2 linked regions of the Homo sapiens genome follow. The protein of the gene in region 1 interacts with the protein of each later gene in a biochemical or structural test. Each region holds a gene or a part of one and is shown in the gene's direction. Other genes may lie near its edges.

What was found.
Region 2: the proteins of CPSF1 (region 1) and TAF12 form a complex in vitro, tested with the Homo sapiens proteins (one study listed by BioGRID).

The regions. Positions count from the first base shown.
Region 1 is NC_000008.11:144,402,712-144,406,524, reverse strand, and holds part of CPSF1 (cleavage and polyadenylation specificity factor subunit 1), read left to right. Parts: intron 1-691; exon of another isoform or gene 692-695; intron 696-1,229; exon of another isoform or gene 1,230-1,360; intron 1,361-3,534; exon of another isoform or gene 3,535-3,658; intron 3,659-3,813. UniProt on the Homo sapiens protein: Component of the cleavage and polyadenylation specificity factor (CPSF) complex that plays a key role in pre-mRNA 3'-end formation, recognizing the AAUAAA signal sequence and interacting with poly(A) polymerase and other factors to bring about cleavage and poly(A) addition.
Region 2 is NC_000001.11:28,615,255-28,619,067, reverse strand, and holds part of TAF12 (transcription initiation factor TFIID subunit 12), read left to right. Parts: intron 1-1,037; coding exon 1,038-1,115; intron 1,116-3,813. UniProt on the Homo sapiens protein: The TFIID basal transcription factor complex plays a major role in the initiation of RNA polymerase II (Pol II)-dependent transcription.

The DNA.
Region 1 (3,813 bases):
GGGGCACCCCAACATTGAGAGATTGGGGAGATGAGAGGCCATGAAAGAGCTGGAGGTGGCATGGCCTGGAAGGCAGGGGGAAAGCTGGACAGGGCCCTGGAGGCCCAGGGAAGGCAGCTGGGAGGGACTCGACACTGGGTCCCACGCTGTTGAGCCTCAGGTGATGCCTGGTGACTGACAGGGCAGTCTGGTGGGCACGAGGGGTTGTGGTCTGAATGGAGCAGGGGTAAGAGCCCAGCAGGGGAGGAGAGTCAGTAACAGTGAACACAGACAACTCTGGAGGAGATGTGCGTAAACTGAAGCAAGAAATGGAGCCATAAATAGCAGGAAAAGAGGTTTTCTTCTTCTGTTTTGTTTTTTGTTTTTAAGAAACGGGGTCTTGCTATGTTGTCCAGGCTGGCCTCGAACTCCTGTGCTCAAGCCATCCTCCTGGGGTCAGTCTAGTCGTGGCTCTGTAACTAACTGCCCTGGAATATGCAAACGAGGTCTTTTATCATAATCGCAGACCTGGAAGCCAGGTTTTCAGGGATTCATCAGAGTGTGGGGAGCCCTTGGCTCTCCTCCACCAGGGCAAGCCTTGACAGGGATGACTTGAAGAGCTGGGGACAGGCTAGATGTGTCTTCCCCTACCCCCACACCGTCCCTCCACTCTCCCCTGTCCCCAGCATGGCTAGCTTGGTTTTCCTGGCAGCATGGTGGTGTTGGTGTAGTTGAGCTTCTTGCAGGAACTCAGAGCCCTAGGAGGCTAAGGCAGAAGCTGCCAGTCACTTTAAGGGCTAGACCAGGAGGGCACCGTCCCTGCCACCACAGTCTGCCCTAAAGGCAGCCTCCAGCCCAGATTCACCTGGAGAGGGAGGGAGACAGCCACCTTTCATACAGCTGTCTTTTTTTTTTCTTTTTTGAGAGAGAGTCTCCCTCTGTCACCCAGGATAGAGTGCAACAGTGCGATCTCAGCTCACTGCAACCTCTGCCTCCCGGGTTCAAGCAGTTCTCCTGCCTCAACCTCCCGAGTAGCTGGGATTACAGGCGCCTGCCACCACACCCAGCTAATTTTTTGTATTTTTGGTAGAGATGGGGTTTCACCATGTTGGCCAGGCTGGTCTCGAACTCCTGACCTCAAGTGATCCACCCGCCTTGGCCTTCCAAAGTGCTGGGATTACAGGTGTGAGCCACGGAGCCCGGCCAAGACATTCCCAGGTGTTTAGATGAGACATTTGTATTTTTGACAGGAACACCACAGAAGAGGCAAACAGCAGCCCCATCAGCTTTCAGGAGGCGGCGGAGGCCTTTGCCTCATGACTGGATGCTGATGCTTTGATGCTTGGTTGGGTAGTGTTGGCCTGGATTCCCCCACTGTAAGGTTATTTCTTCCTTTTGTAACTAAAAGTATCTTGTAGGGACTTATTTTGAAACCCTGTAAACGTCCTCTTATTCAGATTTTCAAGGTTTTTTTTTCTTTCTTTCTTTCTCTTTTTTTTTTTAGACGGAGTCTCGCTCTATCACCCAGGCTGGAGTGCAGTGGCACAATCTCGGCTCACTGCAAGCTCCACCTCCTGGGTTCAAGCGATTCCCCTGCCTCAGCCTCCTGAGTAGCTGGGACTACAGGCGCCCGACTAATGTTTTTGTATTTTTAGTAGAGACGGGGTTTCACCGTGTTAGCCAGGATGGTCTCGATCGCCTGACCCCGTGATCCGCTTGCCTCAGCCTCCCAAAGTGCTGGGATTACAGGCGTGAGCCACCACGCCCAGCCTTTGGTCGCTATTTCTTTAGCTATTGATTCTGTCCCCTTTCCCCCAACATGCCAGTTAGACCATTTGACTATGTACACATTTTTCTTAAAATCCTTCTGAGTGGTGGCCGGGCGCAGTGGCTCACGCCTGTAATCCCAGCACTTTGGCAGGCCGAGGTGGGTGGATTGCCTGAGCTCAGGAGTTCAAGACCAGCCTGTCCAAGATGGTGAAACCCCGAGTCTACTAAAATACAAAAAAAAAAAAAATTAGGCGTGGTGGTGGGCGCTTGTAGTCCCAGCTACTCGGTAAGCTGAGGCAGGAGAATGGCTTGAACCTGGGAGGCAGAGCTTGCAGTAAGCCAAGATTGTGCCACTGCACTCTAGCCTGGCGACAGAGCAAGACTCCGTCTCAAAAAAAAAAAAAATTCTTCTGAGTGGTTACCCCTGTTTCTTGCATGTACACAGAAGTGCAGTTGATCTCTGTATATTGACCTTATACTTGGCAGAGTGGATCAGGCGTCCTTGGCTGGTCCTGACCAAGAGGGAAAACTTCTTTTTTTGTTTGTTTTTTTGAGACCAAGTCTCTCTCTTGTCCCCCAGGCTGGAGTGCAATGGCATGATCTTGGCTCACTGCAACCTCCGCCTCCCGGATTCAAGCGATTCTCCTGCCTTAGCCTCCTGAGTAGCTGGGACTACAGGCACCTGCCACCACACCCAGCTAATTTTTGTATTTTTAGTAGAGACGGGATTTCACTATGTCACCATGTTGGCTAGACTGGTCTCGAACTCCTTACCTCAGGTGATCCACCCACCTCGGCCTCCCAAAGTGCTGGGATTACAGGCGTGAGCCACTGTGCCCGGCCTCAAAAGGGAAAACTTGTAATGTTTCACTCCCAGCACCACATTGCTGTAGACTTTTTGTAGATACCCTTTATTTGATTAAGGAAGTTGGGCGCGGTGGCTCATGTCTATAATCCTTGCACTTTGGGAGGCCAAGGTGGGTGGATCACCTGAGGTCAGGGGTTCGAGACCATCCTGGCCAACATGGCAAAACCCTATCTATTAAAAATACAAAAATAGCCGGGCATGGTAGCACATGCCTGTAATCCCAGCTACTTGGGAGGCTGAGGCAGGAGAATTGCTTGAACCCAGGAGGCAGAGGTTGCAGGGAGCTGAGATCACACTACTGCCCTCCAGCCTGGGTGACAGAGTGAGACTCTGTCTCAAAATTTAAAAAAATAAATAAATTAGTCAGGTGTGGTGACTCACATGTGGTCCCAGCTACTCAGGAGGCTGAGGTGGGAGGATCACCTAAGCCCAGGAGGTCGAGGCTGCAGTGAAACATGATTGCTCCTCTGCACTCCAACCTGGGAGACAGTGAGGCCCTATGTCAAAAAACAAAGGCCTGGCGTGGTGGCTCATGCCTGTAATCCCAGCGCTTTGAGAGGCCGAGGTGAGTGTATCGCTTGAGGTCAGGGGTTGAAGACCAGCCTGGCCATGGCAAAACCCTGTCTGTACTAAAAATACAAAAATTAGCTGGACGTGGTGGTGGGCGCCTATAATCCCAGCTACTGAGGAGGCTGAGACAGGAGAATCGCTTGAACCTGGAAGGCAGAGGTTGCAGTGAGCCAAAATCACACCATTGCACTCCAGCCTGGGCAACAAAGTGAGACTCCATCTCAAAAAAAAAAAAAAAATTTTCCTCCTATTTTTGCTTTACTAGGAGTTTTTATCACGAATGCCTTTATCAGATGCTTTTTTTGTATCCACTAAAATGACATGATTTTTCTCCTTAATTTTGACAGCATGGTAAGTTTAGCGATGGCTGTTCTTGCGGAAATCTAGTTTTGCGTTCCTGGAATAACTCAACCCAGTTGTGTTACAATACCCCTGCTTGTCACTGGGCTCATCTGCAGGCGTTTTGAGGAGGTTGGTGTCACTTCCTGTCCCACCTGTCTGTGGGCTGTTGGGGTGGCCTGAGCCACCTGCGGTGCCGTCAGCCCCACATGAGTGGGTGTGTGTTTTTTTTTTAAGTGTGTCATTACTTCTGAAACCTTTGGTAGAATTTGCGGGTGAAGCCCTGG
Region 2 (3,813 bases), on another chromosome or scaffold:
TTTTTTTGTTTGTTTCTTAAGACATGAGGTCTTCCTGTGTTCCCCAGGCTGGAGTGTAGTGGCACAATCATAGCTCACTGCAGTCTCTAACTCCTGGCCTCAAGTGATCCTCCTGCCTCAGCCTGCTGAGTAGCTGGGACTACAGGCACAGATCACTGTGCCTGGCTTTCTTTTGATTACTTTTTAATGGCATACGTATGTAACATGACATTTCCTTTATGAAGGCTGCCCTCAGGGAGCTTTTAGCCTATTAAGTCAGAAACAGGGAAGTATATAAATATGCACAATGATAAAGGGTACACAGGATACAGTAGAGGCCAAAGGAGGAAGTAAGTGGTTACCTTTACTGGGATGGGCTAGGAAAAGCATCAGAAAGAGGCACCATGAGCTAAGCAAGAAGGAAGAAGAGAGGAAGAGTGTGTACAGCACTTTGGGAGGCTGAGGTGGAAGAATCACTTGAGGCCAGGAGTTCAAGAGCAGGCTGCACAACATAGCGAGATCCTGTCTCTCAAAAAAAAAAAAAAAAAAAAAAATTAGCCAGGTATGATGGCACGTGCCTATGGTCCCAGCTAGCTGGGAAGCTTAGGTGGGAGAGCTTGGCAGTCAAGGCTACAGTAAGCCATGATCATGCCACTGCACTCCAGTGGGCAATAGAGCAAGACCCTGTCTCAAAAACAAAACAAAACAAAAAAACAAACTTGTCTAAAGGCAAGGGGCATGGTACAATTTGTGGTGGTCAGAGAATTGCAAATTTCTACATGTGAAGAGACACAGTGAGAAAAAGACATGAGGCTGAAATATACTGCCTGACAGCTGGATGCTGGCCTGTCTTCAAACTGCTCTTTCCACCTTTCCCTAAGTTACTTCTGTCTTGAGAGTGTAGTCTTACAGCAGCATAGTCAGGTAGGCCAGACTGTGAACTCATTGGAAAGTGGAAACTAAAACCAACAATTTGACAGCCTTTCTTCATTACAGGGTAATGATTTGTTTCATTTCCTTAATATCTGGTTGAAAAGTCTTCTTCCAATTAACTTTAGGTATTGACCAAGAAGAAATTACAGGACTTAGTAAGAGAAGTGGATCCTAATGAGCAGTTGGATGAAGATGTGGAGGAGGTAAGGTGGGGTTGGGTACCCCAGAAACTGGTCCCTGAGAACCGGTATAGCATAGTGGTTAAGAGCACAAACAGGCCAGATGCAGTGGCTCATGCCTTTTGAGAGACCAAAGCAGGAGGATTGCTGGAACCCAGAGGTTCAAGACCAGCCTAGGCCATATAATGAGACCTTGTCTCTGCAAAAAATTAAACAATTAGCTGAGTGCCAGGTGTGGTGGCTCACTCCTGTAATCCCAGCACTTTGGGAGGTCGAGGTGGGCGGATCACAAGGTCAGGAGATCAAGACCATCCTGGCTAACACAGTGAAACCCCGTCTCTACTAAAAATACAAAAAACAAAATTAGCCGGGCATGGTGGCGGGCGCCTGTAGTCCCAGCTACTCGGGAGGCTGAGGCAGGAGAATGAAGTGAACCTGGGAGGCGGAGTGCAGTGAGCCGAGACCATGCCACTGCACTCCAGCCTAGGCGACAGAGCAAGACTCCATCTCAAAAAAAAAAAAAGAAAAAAAATTAGCTGAGCGTGGTGGTGTGTACCTGTAGTTCCAGCTACTAGGGAGGTTGAAGTGTTCTTAAACCCAGAAGGCCGAGGTTGCAGTAAGCCAAGATTGTACCACTGCAATAAATAAATAAAATAAGAGCACAGACAAATCTGAATTTGCTTTATACCCAATAACTGCTGCTACTTTTGCCTGTTAAAAACGGCATAGTCTGTTGCTCACAGGCAATCACTTTCAACAATTTTAGCTGTTTCTGTAACATTCTTCTATATTTCTAAGTAATATACTTAAAAAGATACTCTTTGACCCATTAATTTTATAATATTCTTTTTTTTTTGAGACGGAGTTTCGCTGTTGATGCCCACGCTGGAGTGCAATGGCGCGATCTTGGCTCACCGCAACCTCCGCCTCCTGGGTTCAAGCGATTCTCCTGCCTCAGCCTCCTGAGTAGCTGGGATTATAGGCATGCACCACCACACCTGGCTAATTTTTGTATTTTTAGTAGAGATGGGGTTTCTCCATGTCAGTCAGGCTGGTCTCAAACTCCTGACCTTAGGTGATCCACCTGCCTTGGCCTCCCAAAGTTCTGGGATTACAGGTGTGAGTCACCGTGCCTGGCCAATTTTATAAGATTCTGTTGATTCCCTATTATGGTAGATGAGAATTTTTTACACTACTCAATGTGTGCCATATAACTTTTATTTATTTATTTATTTATTTTTTTGAGACAGTCTTGCTCTGTTGCCCAGGCTGGAGTATAGTGGCAGGATCTCAGCTTACCGCAACCTCTGCATCCCGGGGGTTCAAGTGATTCTCCTGCCTCAGCCTCCCAAGTAGCTGGGATTATAGGCATGTGCCACCACACCTGGCTAATTTTTGTATTTTTTAGTAGAGATGGGGTTTTGCCATGTTGGCCAGGCTGGTCTCGGACTCCTGACCTCAGGTGATTCACCCACCTCGGCCTCCCAAAGTGCTGGGATTACAGGCATGAGCTATCACGCCTGCTGGTCCATATAACTTTCCTTACTGTTTTTCTTTTTCTTTTCTTTTTTTTTTTTTTTTGAGACAGAATCTTGCTCAGCTGCCCAGGCTGGAGTGCAGTGGTGCGATATCGGCTCACTGCAAACTCCATCTCCCAGGTTCAAGTGATTCTTCCACCTCAGCCTCCCGAGTAGCTGGGATTACAGGTGCACACCACCATACCTGACTAATTTCGTATTTTTAGTAGTAACAAAGTTTTACCATGTTGGCCAGGCTGGTCTCAAACTTCTGACCTCAAGTGATCTGTCCACCTCAGCCTCCCACAGTGCTGGGATTATAGGTCTGAGCCACTATGCCCGACCCTGGCTATTCATTCTTAAAGAATCACTCACTGAAAAGCTGATTTGAAGTATAATTGATGGATTTGGCCCAGTAATATATGGGTAAATGTTTAACAACTAGCTCTTTGGAGAAAAATGCCCGATTTGCAGTGCTTTATTATTTCTGTGGTGTAACTATTTCTACCAACATGACATCACTAAATACAAACTTGGGAAAAGAGGTACACAGTTGGCTTTTATGAGCTGGTCTCGGTTCACTCTAGCAGACCACAAGACTTTACTTCAGAGTAATTTGTCCACAAGTCAACCTTCCTAATGGAAGATTCCCTAAATGTCAGTATCTGTAAGTCTTTTCTCTGGAATCATTCAATATCTCCGGAGAAAATTCCAGTCTCCTATCTTGAGGATTTATCCCTTAGCTTCTTTTTTTTTTTTTTTTTTTTTTTTTTTTTTTTTTGAGACGGAGTCTCGCTCTGTTGACCAGGCTGGAGTGCAGCGGCATGATCTTGGCTCACTGCAACCTCCACCTCCCGGGTTCAAGTGATTCTCCTGCATCAGCCTCCTGAGAAGCTGGGACTACAGGCACACGCCACCACACCTGGCTAATTTTTGTAATTTTAGTAGAGACGGGGTTTCACCATATTGGTCAAGCTAGTCTCGAACTCCTGACCTCAGGTCATCCACCCACTTCGGCCTCCCAAAGTGCTGGGATTACAGGCATGAGCCACTGCACCTGGCAATATTTTTTTAACTTATTTTAATGGGATTAGGGAGGGACAGGAGGTTATTTTTAGAGTTGATCTGCTGTTTAATCTGAAATCTTTCTCTAAGATGGTGTCCATTTGGTTCCCACAGTAAAGATGACAATGAGTTAATGGTCC